Homo sapiens: one gene and its partners. The protein of the gene in region 1 interacts with the protein of each later gene in a biochemical or structural test. Each region holds a gene or a part of one and is shown on either strand. Other genes may lie near its edges.

Region 1 (4,977 bases):
CAGCAGAGAAGGAAAAAAGCCACTTGGCGGTTTTAATTTTAGCTGCTCTGTGCCTGACAGGCAGGATTAGTTGGCTTGACCTTTAGTGTTGATGCCTCCCCAGGCCCAGGGCCTTAGGTGGCAGCTTCCAGGCACAAATCACCACTGGAGCTCATCAAACGTGGACGTCTGAGCCCCAGGAAAAAGCCTTCAAAGGACAGAGACTAGAAAAATGAGCAGTGAACAAGGAGGGGCAAAATTGGTTCTCAGCGATGTTAACTAGTCACCAAAGGGGAGACTGTGGAGCCACCCACACACTGAGCTCCCACCACCAAAGCCACACACAGGAGGCAGGTGGTGGGCTTCCCTAATTAACCACCCACAGTCTCACCCCCCCGGACCTGGTGCTGAACGAAAGTTAAGGCACCTTTGGTGCTGCTGCTGCTGCTGGTGGTAGAGGAAGTTTATGTGAAAAGAAAAACCGGGCGGGGCAGGCATTAAAAAGAAAATAAAGAAGCAGACCCAGAAAACCACACTGCTCTTTTATTCAATGGAACATCCCCGCTTTAGCGCAGTGTTGAATCTAACACCGAAAAAAGCCCAGAGAAATTTCTGCAGATAAACCAGTGAAGAGAACGCGCAGTATACATTATTGTCAACAGAATCACTTCATGGAGAGGGAAGCGGGAGGAAAAAGGAAGGAGAATGAACAAGGGGCTCAAACCCCTACACACTGCAAAACATTCAGACATTTGGGATTAAAACAAAACATAAAAGGAAGCCTTCCAGGAAGGAGAGGACCAAATGGAATCTGAGGCAGCTCAGGTGATCAAGGAGCACAGGAAGAACTCCAGGCTGGCAGGCGAGCCCGAGGGAGCTCAGGCTGCCCACCCACTGCTGGCAGGATCGCCAGGACGGATGGGAATCCCGAAACCTGGAGATGAACCTACCCTCGGCAACTTTACAAGACTCCCTTGACAAGGGTGGCAGAGATTAAAAAACCCCACGCTTTAAACAAACATCTTTGGGGGTGGCTATGGCACCTTGAAAAACCCACAACCAGCTTGACATGAATGGCCAAAGCCCTTGCCCAAAACCATTTGCTCCCCTCTCCTTGGTAAGGGAAGGAGAACTGGAGAGAAGGGAAAGGAATCTAAATTGCAGCAGAAGACCGGGGAGAGCATCTCCTTGGACGGAGTCTGAAGAAAGGAAAAGATAAAGAAGTAACAAAGGAAAAAGAAAAAAATTAATAAAAATTTCACGATATGGAGCCAGCGTGTTCCGATTCCGTCCACAAAAATAACTCAGGCTGCTTTGCCGAACCATCCTGTCCACCAGGGGCGTTGCTGAGGCTGTCTGCCTGGAAGGGTCACCAATGGGCGCGGAAAGTCCTCACTCTCATGGCTCGGGCCATCGCCGCCGCGGGGAGGGATCCTGGCGGCCCGGTTTGGGGAGAGGCAAAGGGAGTTGGGTGAGGAGAGAAAGAAGACAAAGAAGACACTCGATGCTACGGGGCGCCAGGAGAGCCCAAGCTGGCGCCCCTACTACCACCTGCCCGTTCCCAAGCGAATCCTCAGTCGCTTGGCCCAGCCCAGTGCGTGCACACACACACATGCGTGCACACACAATCACATGCGTGCGTCCCAATGTCTGGCTCCATATGGTGAGGTTCGGCGTGTTTAAACGAGACCAATTCTCTCTATATATAATATATATTTTCTTAAAAAACAAGTCTAGTTCTGTGGTGGAGGCGGTGGGGGAGCTGGAGGCATCCCGAAGGGCGGCATGCCCGCCACCCCCATGCCCATCATGGTGACAAAGTTAGAAGGGTCCATGGGAGGCGGAGGAGGAGGGGGCGGGGCATACATCATGCCGGCGGAACCAGGCGGTGGAGGCGGCGGAGGGGGAGGGGCCCCAGGCGGCAGAGGCGGCTGGACCCCGGGGGGCAGGGGCACCATAGTGGGGTTGCCTTGCATCTGAGGGGCTCCTGGAGAAGCTGCGGCAGCCGCCTGCTGCTGTTGCCATGGCGGGATGGACCCTGTGCCAGCGCTCGTGGTGGTAGTCGTCGTATCTGGGGTGGTAAAGAAGCCCAAGGTCACACGCGCGGGGGCACACCGCGGCTGTCTGCGGCTGCTGCCTTGGGATGGGGGCGAGGGGCGCCTGCTCCTTGCTTGGCATGCGGTACGGTGGTGGGGGGCGGGTGGGCGGGGCTGGTGATGGGGAGTGGAGGGGTGGGCAGGACTACCCTGGGGTCAGCCTCGAGGTCTCTGGGCTTAACAGAGTAAGCCCTTTGTCACCAATGCCCCTGGAAGGGCTGAGGGGAAGGTACCAGACACAAGAACAGCTCTGATGTCCCTCCGCCCAGCCGCCGCCACCACCGAACGGCACATTCAACCTCAAGGCCACAGCTGCTGTCTCCCCACTGCCCAGTCCCACCTCTGCAGTCTCTCACCCCAATCGCAGCCCTTGCCAGAGCAAGCATGCACCATCCCACTCGACCCATATGCACCAGGCTCAGTCCAGCCAGCCGCTCACTCAGCCTGCGAGGGTCTGGACTTCTGGCCCCCTACCTACAATAGCAGGCTCCCCTCCAGGCCCCCACGAACCTCTCCCCAGACACAACCACACCAAACATCAGCTCTCCTCTTCAAGATGCCCCTCCACCCCCTGGACCAGGAGGCCCTTTCTGTTTACAACCCCAGCAGAGCCCAGGGGCTCATCCCAAGACACCTGCCTGCTTGTGTGAGGCTCTATGGTTCCTGTCAGCCCCACCCCCATCCCACCCACCCCCACAAGCCCAAAATATTCTACTCACTTTGCTGCCATGGCAAGGGGGTACTGGAAGCCATACTGCTGCTGGGCGGAGGGGGTGGCGGAGGCTGCTGCTGCTGTTGTTGCCATGGGGGAAGAGGACCAGAGGGAGGGGGTGGGGGCTGCCCACTGGGAGGCGGCGGCGGCGGCGGCATCATGCCCATAGGTGGTGGCGGCATCATACCTGTGGACAGGTGGAGGCAAAGATGAGGCCTCAGGGAAAGGCGGGGACTTGGGCCAGAACCCCCACTCACCCAAGCCTAGGTGAAGACCCACAGCCAGCAGACAGCCATTACCTTTTCCTTGATGCAGGCGATAGACCCCAGAGCCCACAGGCGTACTTCCCAGGTACTGATCTTGATGGAAGGAAAGAGCAGGGACTTAGCAGGACATTGGAACTGGCCAGGGAAGCCACCCCTGTGATAACCTCAGTTGCTATCCTTACGCGAGTTCTGAAAACCATGCCTGTAAAAGGCAGGTCTGTGCTTACCCAACACAGAATCACTCCCTGAACCAGAATGGAGTCTTGCTCCTTCCAGAGCCACAACCCTGGCAAGCCAGGCAGACCCAGCACATTGCCCAGCCACTTGAGAGCTGCTTCTAGCCAACAGCGACCTGACGTAACCCCTTGCTTATCCCAAAGCCCCCAAGGTTTCTGGTCTGACACTTACTTACCCATTGGAGGAGGGCCATGGTGCCCAGGAGGGTGGGGGCCCTGGTTCATCGGTGGTGGTGGTGGCTGCATCCAAGGGGGTGGGGGTCCATTGGGGTTGTGCTGCATGGGATGTCCACCATGCCCACCTGTCAGGCTGGGTAATGGGTGTGGGAAGCTGTGGGGGCCACCTCCGGGCCCACCAGGACCACCTCCATGCATGCCGTGGTAGGGCCGACTCTCTGAAGGGCCAGAATTCATCCAGGGTGGGCGGCTCTGGGTGGTAGACATGAGAGACTACGTGAGAGCATTTCCTGCCAACGTCCCTGCCTGCGCCTCCTAGTGGCAACATTGTTCTTCGGGTTATGACACAGGACCAGAACACAAGAACAAGGTCTTCCCGAAGTGAGAAGTCCCCAAACTGGCCTGAGATCCCGGAAGAACAATGTTGCCATCCACATCCATTGTCTGCTCTACCCAAACCACGTGGCCATAGCTCCCAGTCTCTGCAGTAGAGAATGGGGAAGCCAGACCAAGAGAGCCAGCCCCCAGGCTCACCGGTGGAGGTGGGTTGTTGGCGGGAGCAGCAGGACGAGGTGCGCTGGCCAGGGGTGTGGTGGCAGGCCCAGAGGTGGAGCCCACAGATGCTGGGACAGGTGCTTCACCCAGTTCAGCCATGAGGGACAAATATTCTTTATCCATCCGTGCTTTATCCTGAGCTGACTGAGGATCACCAGGCCTGAAGTGGGGTGGGGGACACAAACAGAGAAAGGGGAAAAACTTGTTAAGAAGGAAGCTTTTATCCTGAGGAACCAACATATGGAAAGTTCTGAAGAATTCAATCACCAGATCATCACACATCTTTCTAACCCCTTACTGGGCATGGCTCTCAACAGTCTCATCAGATCTTCAGTTTCGTGCCCAGTTCTGCATCTGGGATCACCAGAGTAGAGGGGCCCCTGGGCGAAGAGCACAGGAGACCCTGAGCACCGATGAAGCACAGGTTCTCTCAAGTCAATTTCATCAAACTTCATTCCCAGTTTGAGGAAAGGAAAATCTATGCAAGACTGGCACAACTGCCAGAACGAACTTCCTAAACAAAACCTTACATATTCGCCAGCCAGTCAGAAAGTGTTGATATCGAGTGCTGACTTGCAACTGGTCAGAAATCTGTAGAGATTGCTTAGTCTTCTTGAACCAATTCTGAACAGCAAAAGCAGTGAATTTCCTATTGAGCCCCAGTAAAAACATACCCAAAATGGAAACTTCCAGTTTTCTTGGGCTCAAGACAAACAAACAGGGGTATCTGTACAGCCTATTTCTAATCATCCTGGGCTTTAAATCACACCATTACAGACCACACTAACAGAAAGGATGTTTCTCTTGGTAAGATTAACAGCAACCAATGAATGTGCCAGAAAAGTTGTCCTGCACATCGCAGGCTACCAGGAAACCGCAAGAGCCAGCCCCTCACCTTTGGAATTTACAGTCTGAAGCAATGTGGCCAGCCCCTCCACACTTGGTACACACTGTGG
Region 2 (8,533 bases), on another chromosome or scaffold:
CTGCCACAGGGCTACAGGCTTAGCCACCAAAAATGAGGGCTCAGACCCAAGTACAAGACAGGCCTCTGCAGCCCACACCAGTTGGAAGCTGTCAGTCCTCTGTCCTTGGGGACGTCTTACCTCTGGGGGCAGGTGGCAGGGAGAGAGGAGCATGATAAGCCGTGGAGGAGGGGAACAAAGCAGTCCCCCCAACCGAGCACTTCCATCCTCCTGCACCGCGCCCCACAGCATGCTCTATTTTAGTGGCGCCCTCTGGAGGTGTGTGACGTGATAATTGTGCCACCTCTGCCGCAGCAATGCCCTATGCCCGTGGGGACAACCCTCCTAGCCTGGTCAGGCAGTCTTCCTGAGAGCCCCCATCCCACCCTGACACTGAACATGCCTGCCCGCCCACCCATGTGCCAGCTCACCGAGCAACTTCTTGCTGTCTAGCTTCTGCCGGTTGAGGGGACTGGTCCCATAGAGCAGGGTGTGGTATTCAGAGTGCACTGTCTGGATCTCATCTAGCGTGGCTTTGCGACCTCGGATCCGCTGCCAGGAGGATCAGTAAGAGGGGTCACACAAAGGCACAGCTCTCTCAGAGCCTCTCTGCCCCATAGCCAGGGCACACAGAGCCACTTCCTGGCCTCAGGAGATCCAAATATTTTCAGAAAGTAGATCCTGGCTCTGTCATGACCTTACTCCCGGATCCCCCCCACTCAGCTGGGGACCATGGGGGAAAACAGGCTGCAAGGGATGGAACGGGGTGGTGGGAGAACTGGCCCCGAAGTCTGGGGCTGAAGAGAGGATGAGGAAGAAGCATGAAGAGAGGCTTATCTAACAGGGAAACAAAGGCTGGATTTAAGTTGAGAGCCAGAAGAAGGAGGGGCTCCCTTACCTCGCACTTGCTAAGCAGGCCTGTCTCCTGCAGCCGGGACCAGATGCTCTGGATCCGGCCAGCATGCTCAGGGTGCACGTGTGTGTTCCCGCACATGCACTGGTGCTTTAGCATGAACGTGTCGTAGACCACACCTGGGCCACAGACCTATGTGTCAGCCAGCACTGCTCTGGGCCCAGGATCCCAGCCTGGCTACCATGATCCTCAGCAGGGCTCATGGAGCTGTCTCCAACCCCCAGGTCCAAACACCTCCCCATGGCCACTGCAGCCACCCTGCCACAAACCTGCCCCCTCTCCTCTCCAGCTTTTTTTTTTTTTTCTTTGAAACAGGGTCTCACTCTGTCACCCAGGCTGGAGTGGAGTGTGTAGTGGTGCTATCATGGCTCACTGCAGCCTCAACCACTGCCCCCACCACCCTGGGCTCAAGCGATCCTCCCACCTCAGCGTTCTGAGTAGCTGGGACTATAGGCACTACCACACCTAGCTTTTCTTTTGTTTTTTTTTGAGACAGAGTCTCGCTCTGTCGGCCAGGTCCAGTGGCACGATCTCGGCTCACTGCAACCTCTGCCTCCTGGGCTCAAGCAATTCTCCTGCCTCAGCCTCCCGAGTAGCTGGGATTACAGGCATGTGCCACCACGCCTGGCTAATTTTTGTATTTTTAGTAGAGACGGGGTTTTACCATGTTGGCCAGGCTGGTCTCGAACTCCTGACCTCAGGTAATCCACCCACCTCAGCCTCCTAAAGTGCTGGGATTACAGGCGTGAGCCACTGCACCCAACCTATTTTTTTATTTTTTATTTTAAAGAGACGGGGTCTCACTATGTTGCTCACGTTGGTCTCAAACTCCTGGGCTCAAGTGATCCTCCCACCTTGGCCTCCCAAAATGCTGGGATTACAGGTGTGAGCCACTGCACCTGGCCTTTCCTCTCCAGCCTTTGCCCCCTCTTGACTCCTCCTGAAATTCCTTTGCTCCATTATTGCCTATCAGAAGCTTCCCTGCTCCTCAAGCCCCAGCAAGGCTGCCCTGGACACTCGCATGAGTCTCATCTCTGCCAGCTGTGCCTCCTCAGCTGCACCCTTCTCACGGCACCTCCTGCTTTCCCCCTCCTGCCAAACCCGTGTCTTACTCTCCACGGGTGATACAGGGCCACCCTCAGGCACGTCTGTGTCCCCCCAGAGCCCAGCCTGTGGCAGCTTCATAGGGAAGAGGACTCTGGTCTCATCCCAGACCTCACAGGGAGAAGGAAGGGAAGGTAGAAGGTCAGGGCCCAACAGGGACAGCAGGCTCTCTCTACCCAGCACTTCAGGCTGTGGGGCAGTCCTTCCTTCAGCGGGGTGAGAAAGACGCTACCCACTCTCCCGGCTGAGGCAGAAGGCCCTGCCGCTACCATGAACAGCTCTGGGGTACAGGGAGAGAACGAAGGCCTGTGTCCCCTCCTTTCAGGGTGCCTAAGGGGCCCCAGCAGCCTCTTCCCCCTGCCATGGGGCAGACACCACACACAGGCCCTCTGGTGCCTGGCAGAAGGACCTAACAGTTGGTGGGGGCTCACCTGTGGTGAAGAGGTGCTTGACGGGCTGGTCTGGGGGGCTCTTCATGCCCCCAGGGGCAGCAGGGGAGGACTGGGTACGGCCCAGGGCCTGGTGGGGCACAGTGGCCAGGCTGAGGGGCGCCTGGTACACCTGCAAAGGCTGCAGCGGCTGGGCATCTGAGAACAGCTGGAGGGGAGAATGGGAGGGGGCCTGGGTCAGACTCAGCCAGGACAGGGGTGAGGGCAGGCCCTGTCAGGGCCTCCAGTGGGGCCCCAATCCAGCCCTTTTCTTCCAAGTCTCCTTCCCCCACCTCCTCCCACTTGCTCCCTCCAGGGACAGGAGACACATCTCCTCTGAGATGGGGAGGGATGGGGGAGATGTGATGAGTCACATCAAAGAGTAGCATTGAGGTAAGAGGCTGGGAGGGGTGGGGGCGGGGGCGGGGTGGGGGCGGGATGAGTCAGGCCCGGAGGGCTCGGCTGTGTCCGCAATGAATGGAGTGCCAGCTAGGCGCGAGGCAGACAGTAGTAACAGCGGGGGCGTGTGTGTACACACACGCACAGGCACGCACAGGGACCGACGCATGCATACACAGACACACAAGCAGAGAGGCAGGCCAGTATCACAGACACAGGGAGGGAACTGGCAGCCTAGGACAGACACAACTCTGAGATCAACACAAACAGCTCCCCCTTCTCCCCACCGGCCTCCTTCCCACTCCCCTTTTGCTCTCTACAGAAAGCTGCTCCTGCACAGCCTGGAAACTGCAGATGGGGGAGAGGGAAAGACAAGGGCAGAGGCAGGGGTGGAGAAGGACAGAGGGGTGGTGACCAAGGACTGGGACCAGGGACGGGGCTCACTTTTTTGTATCCAGCACCAGGCTCCTCCAAGTCGGGCCCCTCCTCAGCACCACTCTCGCCCTCCTCGTCCTTAACCTGGATGCAATCCTCCTCCTCCTCCCCATCGTCTTCCTCGTCCTCCTCCTCCAGGTCTTCCTGTGTGCTCTCACTCTCTGTGGAGCCCTCCCGGGGCATGGTCAGGGCTCCCTCCCCCAGCAAGACCTCCTGCTGCTCCGTCAGCTCCTCCTCTGTCTCCTCAGGGTGGGTGGTGGGCTGCCTGGGCAGCTCCCCTGTCTTGGTGAGGATCTGATAACAGAATATGGGGGCACATCAGCTGGGAGTTGGGGAGCAGCTGTGCAGCCTAAAACCCAGAACAGTCTATCCTTCCCTCCCTCCCTTCTTCCAGGTAGAGCTTCTATGTGAATTAGAAAAAGGTGAGGTAGCTCCTCTGAGAGGACTTTTTTTTTTTTTGAGACAGAGTCTCCCTCTGTCGCCCAGCCTGGCATGCAGTGGCACGATCTCGGCTCACTGCAACCTCCGCCTTCCAAATTCAAGCGATTCTCCTGCCTCAGCCTCCCCAGTGACTGGGGTTACAGGCGCACGCCACCACGCCCAGCTAATTTTTGTTTGTTTTTTTGAGACGGTCTCGCTCTTCTCACCCAGGCTGCAGTGCAATGGTGCGATCTGGGCTCAGTGCAACCTCCATCTCCCAGGTTCAAGCAATTCTCCTGCCTCAGCCTCCCGAGTAGCTGGGATTATTATAGGTGCCTACCACCACGCCTGGCTAATTTTTGTATTTTTAGTAGAGACGGGGGTTTCACCATGTTGGCCAGGCTGGTCTCGAACTCCTGACCTCAGGCGATCTGCCCACCTCGGCCTCCCAATCAGGCGCGAGCCACCGTGTCTGGCCTGAAAGGAGGACTTTTCTGCCAGCCTGGTACTCTCCTGTGTCCTGCCCCCACCACAGCCCCAGGCCATTCACCTTTCCAGGCTCACCTTGCCCAGCTGTAGCTGCTGCTGCTTCTGCTTCTCCAGGAACTGCTGGTGCTGTTGTTGCATGACCAGCTGCTGCAGGGCCTGGGGACTCTGCGGCAGCGGTGAGGACTGAGTGCGGCTCAGGGGCCGATGCCGCGGGAGCTTGCCTACCGTCCGCATGCTGGTGGCCACACGTTCACCCGTCACTAGTGGGGACTGCCCGTGGAGTGGCACTACGGAGTTGGGGGTGATGACTAAGCACCATTGTCAGGGCACCTGACTGCCCTCCCACCGACCCTGCATCTTGCCCCCACAACCCCCTCTGGCATATCACCACCTATATACTCAGGAAAAACCCTGGGGGACCTGAAGCACCCCCCACCCAAACCTGAGCTCCATTCTTCCTCTTCCCCATGAATGAAGAGTTTCACAGCTCTAAGGTACCACCTCCAGCAAGCCTTCCTGGATTCACCATCTTTTCCCTTCGATTTCCTTAACTGAATAAACTGAGTATACATTTAGTCTTGAGCCCTCTGAACGAACAATGACTTTTCTCCCTAAGTGCAACAAGGCCTCCCTGATCATGGATCCTCCCCGTGGATCCCGCCAGGCTAGGAAGCCCTAGGGCCAGGATCATGTATCTTTCAAGCAGAACCTCTTCTGGTGCCAGGGCTCTTTAGACAGCCCTGGTACTTAAGGGCTGTCTAAAGTTGTGCTGTCTAGTCCCATAGCTACTAGTTACATGTGACTGCTGAGCCCTTGCACACAACCTGTCTAAACTGAAATGTGATATAAGTGTGAAGTATACACTAGATTTCAAAGAGTATGAAACAAAAACCAAAATATCTCATTGGTAACTGCATATTGGCCAGGCACAGTGGCTCACACCTGTAATCCCAGCACTTTGGGAGTCCAAGGCAGGGGGATGGCTTGAGCCCAGGAGTTCAAGACCAACCTGGGCAGCTGGGTGCGGTGGCTCACACCCGTAATCCCAGCGCTTTGGGAGGCCAAGGCAGGTGGATCACTTGAGGTCAGGAGTTCAAGACCAACTTGGCCAACATGGTGAAACCCCGTCTCTACTAAAAATACAAAAATTAGGCCAGGCGCAGTGGCTCACGCCTGTAATTCCAACACTTTGGGAGGCCAAGGCGGGTGGACCATCTGAGGTCAGGAGTTCAAGACCAGCCTGGCCAACGTGGTGAAACTTCTTCTCTAATAAAAATACAAAAAATTAAGCCAGGCATGGTGGCACATGCCTGTAATCCCAGCTACTTGGGAGGCTTAGGCAGGAGAATCACTTGAACTCGAGAGGCAGAGGTTGCAGTGAGCCGAGATCTTGCCACTGCACTCCAGCCTGGGCAACAAGAGTGAAACTTCGTCTCAAAAAAAAAAAAAAAAAAAAAAAAAAATTAGCTGGGTGTGGTGGCACACGCCTGTAGTCTTAACTACTCAGGAGGCTGAAGCAAAAGAACCGCTTGAAGCTTGAACCCAGGAGGTGGAGGGTGCAGTGAGCAGAGATCCTGCTTACTGCACTCCAGCCTGGGCAACAAAGTGAGATTCTGTCTCAAAAAAAAAAAAAAAAAAAGGATGAGCATGGCGGCTCACACCTGTAATCCCAGCACTTTGGGAGGCCGAGGCGAACGGATCACCTGAGGTCAGGAGTTCAAGACCAGCCTGGCCAAGATGGTGAAACCCCAGCTCTATTAAAAATACAAAAATTAGCCAGGCGCGGTGGCAGGCGCCTATAATCCCAACTACTTGGGAGGCTGAGGCAGGAGAATTGCTTGAACCCGGGAGGCAGAGGTTGCAGTGAGCCAAGATCACGCCACTGCACTCTAGCTTGGGCAACAGAGCGAGACTCAGTCTCGAAAAAAAGACCAGCCTGGGTAACATAGCAAGATCCTGTCTCTACAAAAATTAAAAAATAGAAAGAATAACTGCATATGTATTACCGAAATTGTAATATTCTGGATATAATGAGTTAAATATATGTGGTGAAATTAATTCCACTTGCTTCTCTTTTTTTTGAGACAGAGTGTCGCTCTGTTGCCCAGGCTTGGGTGCAATGGAGCGATCTCGGCTCACTGCAACCTCCGCCTCCTGGGTTCAAGCAATTTTCCTGCCTCAGCCTCCCGAGTAGCTGGGATTACAGGTGCCCGCCACCACGCCCAGCTAATTTTTGTATTTTTAGTAGAGATGGGATTTCACCATGTTGGCCAGGCTGGTCTCAAGCTCCTGACCTCAAGTGATCCACCTGCCTTGGCCTCCAAAGTGCCGGGCTCACAGGCTTGAGCCACCATGTGTGGCTCCACTTGCTTCTTTTAATTTTTTTATTTTTTTGAGACGGAGTCTCACGCTCTGTGCCCCAGGCTGGAGTGCAGTGGCACGATCTCGGCTCACTGCAAGCTCCGCCTCCCAGGTTCACACTGTTCTCCTGCCTCAGCCTCCTGAGTAGCTGGGACTACAGGTGCCCACCACCACGCCCGGCTAATTTTTTGTATTTTTAGTAGAGACGGGGTTTCACCATGTTAGCCAGAATGGTCTCAATCTCCTGACCTCGTGATCCACCCGCCTCAGCCTCCCAAAGTGCTGGGATTTCAGGCGTGATCCACCGCGCCCGGCCTTCTTTTTACATTTTTTAATGTGGATGCTAGAAATTACGTATGTAGATTGTGTTATGTTTCTACTGAACAACACTGCTCTGGGATGTGAACGCCAAGATGGCAGCAGATTTTGTCAAGAACAGTGCCTGGCATCCTGTAGGTATCCCATGTTTCCAGAATGTGGAAGAAATCACTGATGCTGTTGATTCTGCTAAGGGGAACTGTGACAGGGTTGGAGAGTATCCCTGACAGTTGGTCCTGACCTTAGCCCCCTCCCTTGCACAGCTACCTGTCCACTCACCAGCAATGAGGGTGCTCTGCTGCCGGGCCTGCTCCAGCAACAGCACATGCTGCAGCAGGGAGGCATGCCCGTGGGGGCTCCCGTCGCCCTCCAGTGCCACGCCCAGCAGGCAGCCAGGAATAGAGGATGTGCTCATGAACTTGCCGGTCAGCGTGCCACCCTGCCGCAGGGACTGGAGGGCCTGCCTCTCGGCCTCCTGCTGTGTCGACAGCTTCGGGGAGGCCTGGGGGGTGAAGGGAGGGGCTTATACAGCCTCAGTCCTGCCAACTTTGGACTAGCATCCCCATCTACCCACTATCTACCCCCCAAGCTCTGGGTAGGGCCAACAGATCTCCCTTAGGGCCTTGGAAGGGGAAAACCCCAGCTGGGGGCATGCAGGACCTGTGACCTCAACACCAGAGGGAAGATGGGGTATATGCCCTGTACTTACAGTGAGGTGTGAGTTGGTGACAGTGACCGTGGCCTGCAGCCCTAGGGAGATGTTGGGCAGAGAAGGAGACGTGTAGAGGCTGAACTGGTTGGGGGAGCTGTCCAGAGGGAGGGCTCGGTGCTGAGGGAGCATCTGGGGAGCAGTCAGAAGAGACAGGCATGAGAGTGCACAAAGGGGAGGCAACAAGGGAGGGCAACCTGGGGCCAAGGCCAAGGTCTCTGAATGGTGCCCAGTTCCCTCTACCCTGAGCTCCCACTGAGGGAGACTGAGCCATCAGGGCTCTTCATAGTCCTGTGGGACAAATTCCCCTTCAATGCAATTAAGTCCAAGCAAGGATCCTCCAGCCTATTCATGTGGGCAGAGAGGTCTCTGCTGGGCACTCAGGCAGACAGACTGGAAGGAGCTGCACTCTTTCTTCCATGGGAAGGAGCAACTCTGTCCCCGCCCCACCAGCCCCCAGCCAGGCCTGTACCTCAGTGGGGATGTTGGGGACTGAGCCAGTAAAGCCATTCTCAGCGATGGTGCTGTGGGAGCTGTTGGGAGAGCTGGGGCCGGAGCCGGGTGCGCTGTTACACACGGACGACGCTATAGGAGAAGTGGCTGTCACCTGGGCCTGCTGTGAACTACCCCCGACCCCTGATTCCCAGACCCTCAGAACAGGTACATGAGAGCAGCCCTTACCCCCAGGCCCGGCACCTGTGATCTCAACAGCTCTCTTCTTAAAGGTGCTAATAACAGTCCCATCCTTGCGACGCAGGAGGGGACTGCTTCTCCGCTCAGCCACCTTCTGTTTTAGCCTTGAACGCACTTTCAAGTTGGGTTCAGAGGCTGGAGAGAAGGTAACCGAGGTTCAGATACGCGCACAGCAGCACACATCTGCAGCTGAGCCCACTGGGGTCAGGGCTGACACTGCCACAAGCCCACCTCTGCCTCCCAGGAGCCATATTCTGGGAGGCCAGGTGGGGGACTCACTCACCT
Region 3 (8,533 bases), on another chromosome or scaffold:
GAAACCTGTCTCTACTAAAAATACAAAAATTAGCTGGACGTGGTGGCGGATGCCTGTAATCCCAGCTACTCGGGAGGCTGAGACAGGAGAATTGCTTGAACCGGGAGGTGGAGGCTGAAGTGAGCCAAGATCATGCCACTGCACTCCAACCTGGGCAACAGAGTAAGACTGTCTCAGAAACAAACAAACAAACAACAAAATATATATATATATAATATATATATATGTTTTTTTACCCATAAAGCTACTCAAGGATAGAGAAATCACTATAAAAACAACCTTTACAATATAATAAGTATTCAATAATCAGTTGCTGAATGAATGAATTATTAAGGAAAAGGAATTAAGATGAAGAGAAACAATACAAAGATAACAATTGACAATCATAATCATTTAATGCCCTTAAATTTGTAATAACTACTGAACATCTCTCCATGCTTCTATTCACTCCTACATCGACTGCACTGATTTTATATATAAACACATACATAAATAAACCATGTACTTGCTTATCTATAACAAGCCACTCCAACTGAGTGGCTTAAAACAGTAAGTCATTTATTATTATTATTACTATTGCTGTTGTAATTATTAGTGAAGACCAAGTCATGCTCTGTCACCCAGGCGAGAGTGAGCGCAGTGGTGCAATCACAGCTCACTGCAGGCCCGACCTCCTGAGCTCAAGAAATCCTCCTACCTCACTCAGCTTTTGGAGAAGCTGAGACTATAGGGGTGTGCCACTATGCCCTGCTAATTTTTAAATCATTTTTTGTAGAGAAAAGGCTCTCACTTTGTTGCCCAGGCCGGTCTTGAACTCCTGGTTTCAAGTGATTCTCCTGCCTCAGCCCCTCGAAGTGCTGAGATTATAGGCACGAGCCACCACACCAGACCCATTTATCATTATTGTCTTTCAGTCCTGAGGATTAACTGAGCTCAGCCAGGCATTCCTTACTTGGCATTTCTCTAGTGACAGTCACACACTGGTCAGGCTGGATCATTCCAATGGCTTCCTCCACCCACATGTCGGGTACCAGGCCTGAGGAAATATGTAAAGCTTGGGACTGTAACAGCTGTGATGCCTGGGGCTTTCTATCCTTATGTGGTCTCTCTACATGGTGTGTCCAGCATAGCTGTTTCAAGGTAAGAGATGCCCTCTTACCTGGCAACTCCAGACTCCAAAAGCATATGGGGAAGTGCAGGCAGGGAGGGCGGGCATATGAGCATATGCCAGGCACAAGCTGTCTACTTTTATGACCTAGCCTCAGAAATCACAAAGTATTTCTATTTATTGGAAACAATTCACTTAGGGCTGTCCCATTTTCAAAGCAGGAAGTTAGACTTCTTTTTTTTTTTTTTTTGGTTTGAGGACTGTCACAGAAGCACAGAAGTGGCAGACATGGTGTGTGTGTGTGTTTTTGGTGGGGGGGGGTGGGGCACAGAGTCTTGCTCTGTAGCCCAGGCTGGAGTGCAATGGTGCGATCTCGGCTCACTGCAACCTCCGCCTCCTGGGTTCAAGTGATTCTCCTGCCTCGGCTTCCCAAGTAGTTGGGATTACAGGTGCTCACCACCTGTAATTTTTGTATTTTTAGTTGAGATTTTTGTAGTTTTAGTTGAGATGGGGTTTCACCATGCTGGCCAGGCTGGTCTCGAACTCCCGACCTCAGGCCATCCACCCGCCTTGGCTTCCCAAAGTGCTGGGATTACAGGTGTGAGCCACCGCACTCGGCCAGCGGACATGTTTACAACAACCACTACACTCATACACATACTTATTTATGTACAGATATAAACACAAACACACACTTTTCTACATCACTTCCTTACAGACGATGTTTTTACTAAGTGAACATACCTGTGAAACCACCACTTAACCAAGAAACAGAACATTACCAGAAACCCCAAGCCTTCAAGGCCCTTCCCAGGTTTACCTTACCCACCAAAGGTAGGCGATATCCTGCCTTCTTACACTATGCAGTGGTTTTTGTCTATTTCTGAATTTCCAATAAATGGAATGATATAGGAGGTACTTTTTTCTCCAGCATCTTCTGTCCAGTACCACATGTGAGGTTCATTTGTAATATTACAAATAGTAGTAGTTTCTTAATTTTCATTACTATATAGCAGCAGTACTCAATGGGTGGTCCAAGGACCACAGAGGGTACCTGAGACCCTATCAGGAAGTCTATAAGGTCAAAGCTATTTTCATACTAATTCCGAGACATTTGCCTTTTTTACTTATTCTCTTACCACTGGACAGGAGAGATTCTGAGAGACTACTAGAAGTGTGATAACGTCACATTCTGAAATCTAACAGAATGCGTGATTATGTATTTCTGTGTGTTCTAGAAGTTTCTAGAGTAGTAGGTTTGGGGAATAAACATGTACTTTCAGAAATTAGCTGACTTTGTTACCAGTACTTCTACTGTACTCTTAAAAACTGTATTTATTTATACCTGCATTTATGTCTGTAGCCTCATTATTGTCCAAGAAATTATTGTGAAATCCCCAAGTTTTCCATGTACCTACATGGAAACAAAAGAATAAATACTTCATTTTAGAATAATATTTTATTATACAATAAAAAGAGAATATCTATTTCTTTTTCTTTTTAGACAGAGTTTCGCTCTTGTTGCCCAAGCTGGAGTGCAATCACACAATCTCAGCTCACTGCAACCCCCGCCTACTGGGTTCAAGCGATTCTCCTGCTTCAGCCTCCCAAGTAGCTGGGATTACAGGCACGTGCCACCATGCCTGGTTAATTTTTTGTATTTTTAGTAGAAACGGGGTTTCACCACTTAGCCAGGCTGGTCTTGAACTCCTGACCTCAGGTGATCCGCCCACCTCGGCCTCCCAAAGTGCTGGGATTACAGGTGTGAGCCACCACACCCAGCAGAGAATATGTATTTCTTATACTTGAAAATGGATATTGGTTTTTTGTTTTGTTTTGAGATGGAGTCTCGCTCTGTCCCCCGGGCTGGAGTGCAATGGTGCGATCTTGGCTCACTGCAACCTCCACTTCCCAGGTTCAAGCGATTCTCCTGCCTCAGCCTCCTGAATAGCTGGGATTACAGGCGTGAACCACCGCATCTGGCTAATTTTTGTATTTTTAGTAGAGATGGGGTTTCACCATGTTGGCCAGGCTGGTCTTGAACTCCTGACCTCAGGTGATCCTCCCGCCTTGGCCTCCCAAAGTGCTGGGATTACAGGCGTAAGCCACCACGCCCAGCCAGTTTTTTGTGTTTTTTTTTGTTTTGTTTTGTTTTTGTTTTTTTTGAGATGGAGTCTTGCTCTGTCACCCAGGCTGGAGTACGGTGGCGCAATCTCGGCTCACTGCGGCCTCTGACTCCCGGGTTCAAGCAATTCTCTGCCTCAGCCTCCCAAGTAGCTGGGATTACAGGCACATGCCACCACATCGGCTAATTTTTTTTGTATTTTTAGTAGAGACGGGGTTTCACCACGTTGGTCAGGCTGGTCTTGAACTCCTGGCCTCAAGTGATTTGCCCACCTCGTCCTCCCAAAGTGCTGGGATTAGAGGTGTGAGCCACCGTGCCTGGCCAGGTTTATTTTTTGAGACTACTTTTATTATTAAAAAATCTGGCCTGGAGTGGTGGCTCACATCTGTAATCCCAGCACTTTGGGAGGCTGAGATGGGAGGATTACTTGAGTCCTGGAGTTTGAGACCAGCCTGGACAACATAGTGAGACCTTGTCTCTACTAAAAAAAAATAAAAATAGAAATGTAGCTGGGTGTAGTGGTGTGTACCTGTGGTCCCAGCTACTTGGGAGGCTGAGGTGGGAAGATTGCTTGAGCCTGAGAGGTCCAGGCTGCAGTGAGCTGTGATCACTCCACTGCACTCCAGCATGGGTAACAGAGTGAGACCCTGTCTCAACAACAACAAAAAAGATCTGTTGTATAACCCTGTGCCCACACTGGACAATACTGCATTGTACACCTAAAATTCCATTAAGAGGGTAGATCTCATGTAAAGTATTTACAACACAAGAAAATTTTTTAAAGTGTTTACATATTTAATAAATACTTTTTTCTATTTCTTAGCATACAGCACCAATGTAAATAAATATTAATTATAGCATCCACAGTTAAATTTCTCAATATTTGTTTTTGAGAAACACTGAGTATTTTTTGAGAAACACTTTATTTCCCACTTTATTGAGGGAAAATTGACAATTAAAATTTATATATTTAAAGGATACAACCTGATGATTTGATATACATTTACATTGTGAAATAATCACCACAGTCAGCTAACTAACCTATTCATCACCTTACATAGTTAACTGTTTTCTTTTTTTTGTGGTAACAAAAAAACATGTACCTTCAGCACGTTTCAAATATACAATACAGTACTGCAAACTAGAGTCATAATATTCTGGAGTCTGAATGTGGATATTCAGAATCCACTCATCTTGCATAACTGAAGCTTTATTTTATTTATTTTTTTGAGATGGAGTCTAGCTCTGTTTCCCAAGCTGGAATGCAGTGGAGCGAACTCAGCTAACTGCAACCTCCACCACCCGGGTTCAAGCGATTTTCCTGACTCAGCCTCTTGAGTAGCTGGGACTACAGGCGTGAGCCACCATGCCCGGCTAATTTTTGTATTTTTAGTAGAGGCAGGGTTTCACTATGTTGGCCAGGCTGGTCTGGAACTTCTGACCTCATGATCCACCCGCCTCAGCCTCCCAAAGTGCTGGGATTACAGGCGTGAGCCACCGTGCCTGGCCAGATTTTGACTATTTTGTTGTTGTTGTTGTTGTTGTTATTGTTGTTGTTGTTATTGTTGTTGATTGAGATGGAGTTTCACTCTTGTTGCCCAGGCTGGAGTGCAATGGTGTGATCTCAGCTCACTGCAACTTCCGACTCCCAGGTTCAAGCTATTCTCCTGCCTCAGCCTCCCCAGTAGCTGGGATTACAGGCGTGTGCCACCACGCCCGGCTAATTTTTTGTATTTTTAGTAGAAACGGAGTTTCACCATGTTACCCAGGCAGGTCTCGAACTCCTGACCTCAGGTGATCCACCCTCCTCTGCCTCCCAAAGTGCTAGGATTAGAGGTATGAGCTGCCACACCTGGTCAAAATTAGACTTTAGGAAAGTTTGTGTCAGCCCCTGTGAGCTTGACAGCTTCCAAATACTTAAAGACTTACCTGATTAGATTCGTGGTGTTATTAACAAGTATGATTTTTTGGCTATTTTATAAGAAAATGTGTCAAAGTCTGGAAGATCTGCATAACTAATTGGAGCAATATTTTCCAAATAACTAATGCATCATGTTACAAAACAGGTACCACAGATAAGAGATCCATTCAAAAAACAAGACAGACTAGTGAGTTTTAATTTAATAGATTAAATTCAGAGGCAGATGTGAGATCCACGTGTCTTCTTTTAATCCAAGCATTAAAGAAACGTGCAAAAAATGAAAAACATTGCCACTTTTCACAATAACTATTTTCGTTTTGTTTTGGAAAATATAACTTATTTATGTTAACATATAGTTTATTATTTTTAAATGAATTAAATGAATATTTCATTTTTCCTAGATTTAATTTCTAAGACAGTTAATATTGAAGGATATAATCTACATATGCAAGAGCTCTTGGGGTTCTCAATAGTTTTTAAGAATATAAAGGCATCCTGAGAATAAAAAGTTTGAGACTGATAACTATATATAGCATTGCATTCTAACACAATTTATTTTCCCATATACCTAATGATGGACATTCTGGTTGCTTCCAATAGTTGACTATTATGATTAGTGCTGCTATGAACATTCCTGTACATTTCTTTTGGTGGAAATAATTACTCTTTTCTGTTAGGTATGCACATCAGAGTGAAATTGCTGCATCATAGGATATAAATTTCTTCAGCTGTAGTTGACATTATGCAACAATTTTCTAATTTAGGCCAGGTGTGGTGGTTCACGCTTGTAATCTCAGCACTTTGGGAGGCTGAGATAGGCATATCACTTGAGGTCAGTAGTTTGAGACCTGCCTGGCCAACATGGTTAAACCCTGTCTCTACTAAAAATACAAAAATTAGCTGGGTGTGGTGGTGGGTGCCTGTAATCCCAGCTACTTGGGAGGCTGAGGCAGAAGAATCGCTTGAACCCAGGAGGTGGAGGTTGCAGTGAGCTGAGATGCGCCAGTGCACTCCAGCCTGGGTGACAGAGCAAGACTCTGTCTCAAAAAAGCAAAAAATAAATAAATAAATAACATTCTAATTTAAAATTCCACTTTCAATTTACTTTCAATTCTTTTGCGTATATACCTAGAAGTAGAATTGCTTGATTATATGGCAATTCTATTTTTAATGTTTTGAGAAATTACCATACTGTTTTCCATAGTGGCTGTATGATATAGCTCGGATATGTGTCCCCTCTAAATCTCATGTGGAATTGTAATCCCCAGTGTTGGAGGTGGGGCCTAGTGGGAAGTAACTGGATTATGGGAGCGGTTTTCTCATAAATGGTTTAGCACCATTCCCTTGGTGCTATCCTCATGATGGTGAGTGAGTTCTCATGATATCTGGTCCTTGAAAGTGTGTGGGCTGGGTGTGGTGGCTCATGCCTGTAATCCCAGCACTCTGGGAGGCCGAGGTGGACAGATTATCTGAGATCAGGAGTTCAAGACCAGGTTGACCATCATGGTGAAACTGTGTCTCTACTAAAAATACAAAATTAGCTGGGTGTGGTGGCAGGCACCTGTAATCCCACCTACTCGGGAGGCTGAGGCAGGAGAATCGCTTGAAACCGAGGTGGAGGTTGCAGTGAGCTGAGATTGCACCATTGCTTTCCAGCCTGGACAACAAGAATGAAACTCCGTTTCAAAAAAAAAAAGAAAATGTGTGGCACCTCCCCACGCCCCCCACTCTCTCTCTTGCTCCTGCTTTCACCATGTAAAGTGCCTGCTCCTGCTTTGCCTTCCACCATGAATAAAAGCTCCCTGAGGCCTTCCTGGAAGCTGAGCAGGGCCATGCTTCCTATAAAGCCTGCAGAACCATGAGCCAATTAAACCTCTTTTCAAATTACCCAGTCTCAGGTATTTACAGCAATGCAAGAATGATCTAATACCTTGTACCATTTTACATTCTCACCAATAGTGCACAAAGGTTCAAATTTCTCCACATTCCTGGCAACACTTGTTATGTTTTTTTTTTAAATTAACCATCCTATTGAGTGTGAGGTGATATCTCATTGTGTGCTTTTTTGTTTGTTTGTTTTTGTTTTCGTTTTTGGTTTTGTTTTTCAGACTGAGTCTCGTTGTCACTCAGGCTGGAGTACAGTGGTGCAATCTCAGCTCACTGCAACCTTCGCCTCCCAGGTTCAAGTGATTCTTGTGCCTCAGCCTCCCAAGTACCTGGGACTACAGGTGCATGCCACCATGCCTGGCTAATTTTTGTATTTTTTGGTAGAGACGGGGTTTCGCCATGTTGGCCAGGCTGATCGCGAACTCCTAACCTCAAGTGATCCACCTGCTTCGGCCTCCCAAAGTGCTGGGATTACAGTCATGAGCCACCGTGCCCAGCCTCATTGTGGTTGTGACTAGCATTTCCTTAATGGCTAGTGATTTTGAACATCTCTTCATGTGCCTGTTGGCCCCAGCAGCACAAGAAGTATGGAGCAGATCAGAATAGCAGTGTAATGGTTCTGAAAACTAAACTGTCATTGGAACTAAAGCCTACAAAAGTAGATCAGATCTTTACTAAATCTAACAGGATAACTACTTGCTCAAATTGATTAAATAGAATCAAGACTCTCTGAAACATAATAACGAAAATATCCAAGGTACAACTGAAAATCACTTCTCATACCAAAAACCAAGAAAACCAAAATCTGAAGGAGAAAAGGCAATCAACTAATGCAAATACAAGGATGAAGCACATGTTGGAATTATCTGACAAAGACTTTAAAACATGCTTCACAAAAAGGCTTTGCCAATCAATTTTAAATTCTCTTGAAACAGTATATTTTATTATTTATTTATGTTTTTTTTTGAGACAGAGTCTCACTCTTGGCGCCCAGGCTGGAGTGCAATGGCATAATCTTGGCTCACTGCAACCTCTGCCTCCCAGGTTCAAGCAATTCTCCTGCCTCAGCTTCCTGAGTAGCTGGGATTATAGGCTGGGCCATTGTGCCCAGCTAATTTTTTGTATTTGTAGTAGAGATGGGGTTTCACCATGTTGGCCAGGCTGGTCTTGAAATCCTGACCTCAGGTAATCCACCCTCCTCAGCCTCCCAAAGTGCTGGGATTACAGGTGTGAGCCACTGCGCCCGGCCTGAGCCACCACGCCTGGCTGAAACAGTGTACTGTAAACTTAAAAACTTCTAGGAGAGTAGATGTTAAATGTTCTCCCACACACAAAAAAATAAGTTTATAAGATAACTATTGTGGAAGAACAAAAAAAGAAGCATGTCAGGTAACAGATATGTTAATTAGCTAGATTTAATCGTTTCACAACATATACATATATCAAAACATATTGTAGACCATAAATACATACAATTTGTATTTTTCAATTA

Evidence for each region. The genes of interacting proteins can lie anywhere in the genome.
Region 2: the proteins of SF1 (region 1) and HDAC5 form a complex in vitro, tested with the Homo sapiens proteins (one study listed by BioGRID).
Region 3: the proteins of SF1 (region 1) and ZNF461 form a complex in vitro, tested with the Homo sapiens proteins (one study listed by BioGRID).

What each region holds. Positions count from the first base shown.
Region 1 is NC_000011.10:64,764,106-64,769,082, forward strand, and holds the end of SF1 (splicing factor 1), read right to left. Parts: coding exon 4,917-4,977; intron 4,182-4,916; coding exon 4,001-4,181; intron 3,740-4,000; coding exon 3,466-3,739; coding exon of another isoform or gene 3,462-3,465; intron 3,147-3,461; coding exon 3,087-3,146; intron 2,975-3,086; coding exon 2,795-2,974; intron 2,051-2,794; coding exon 1,713-2,050; 3' UTR 1,414-1,712; coding exon of another isoform or gene 1,284-1,413; 3' UTR 501-1,283; downstream 1-500. UniProt on the Homo sapiens protein: Necessary for the ATP-dependent first step of spliceosome assembly. Binds to the intron branch point sequence (BPS) 5'-UACUAAC-3' of the pre-mRNA. May act as transcription repressor.
Region 2 is NC_000017.11:44,084,145-44,092,677, forward strand, and holds part of HDAC5 (histone deacetylase 5), read right to left. Parts: coding exon 8,532-8,533; intron 8,384-8,531; coding exon 8,237-8,383; intron 8,141-8,236; coding exon 8,028-8,140; intron 7,688-8,027; coding exon 7,556-7,687; intron 7,349-7,555; coding exon 7,126-7,348; intron 4,455-7,125; coding exon 4,243-4,454; intron 3,553-4,242; coding exon 3,268-3,552; intron 2,594-3,267; coding exon 2,428-2,593; intron 1,012-2,427; coding exon 878-1,011; intron 532-877; coding exon 411-531; intron 1-410. UniProt on the Homo sapiens protein: Responsible for the deacetylation of lysine residues on the N-terminal part of the core histones (H2A, H2B, H3 and H4).
Region 3 is NC_000019.10:36,641,341-36,649,873, forward strand, and holds part of ZNF461 (zinc finger protein 461), read right to left. Parts: intron 2,523-8,533; coding exon 2,454-2,522; intron 2,435-2,453; exon of another isoform or gene 2,248-2,434; intron 2,227-2,247; exon of another isoform or gene 1,853-2,226; intron 1-1,852. UniProt on the Homo sapiens protein: May be involved in transcriptional regulation.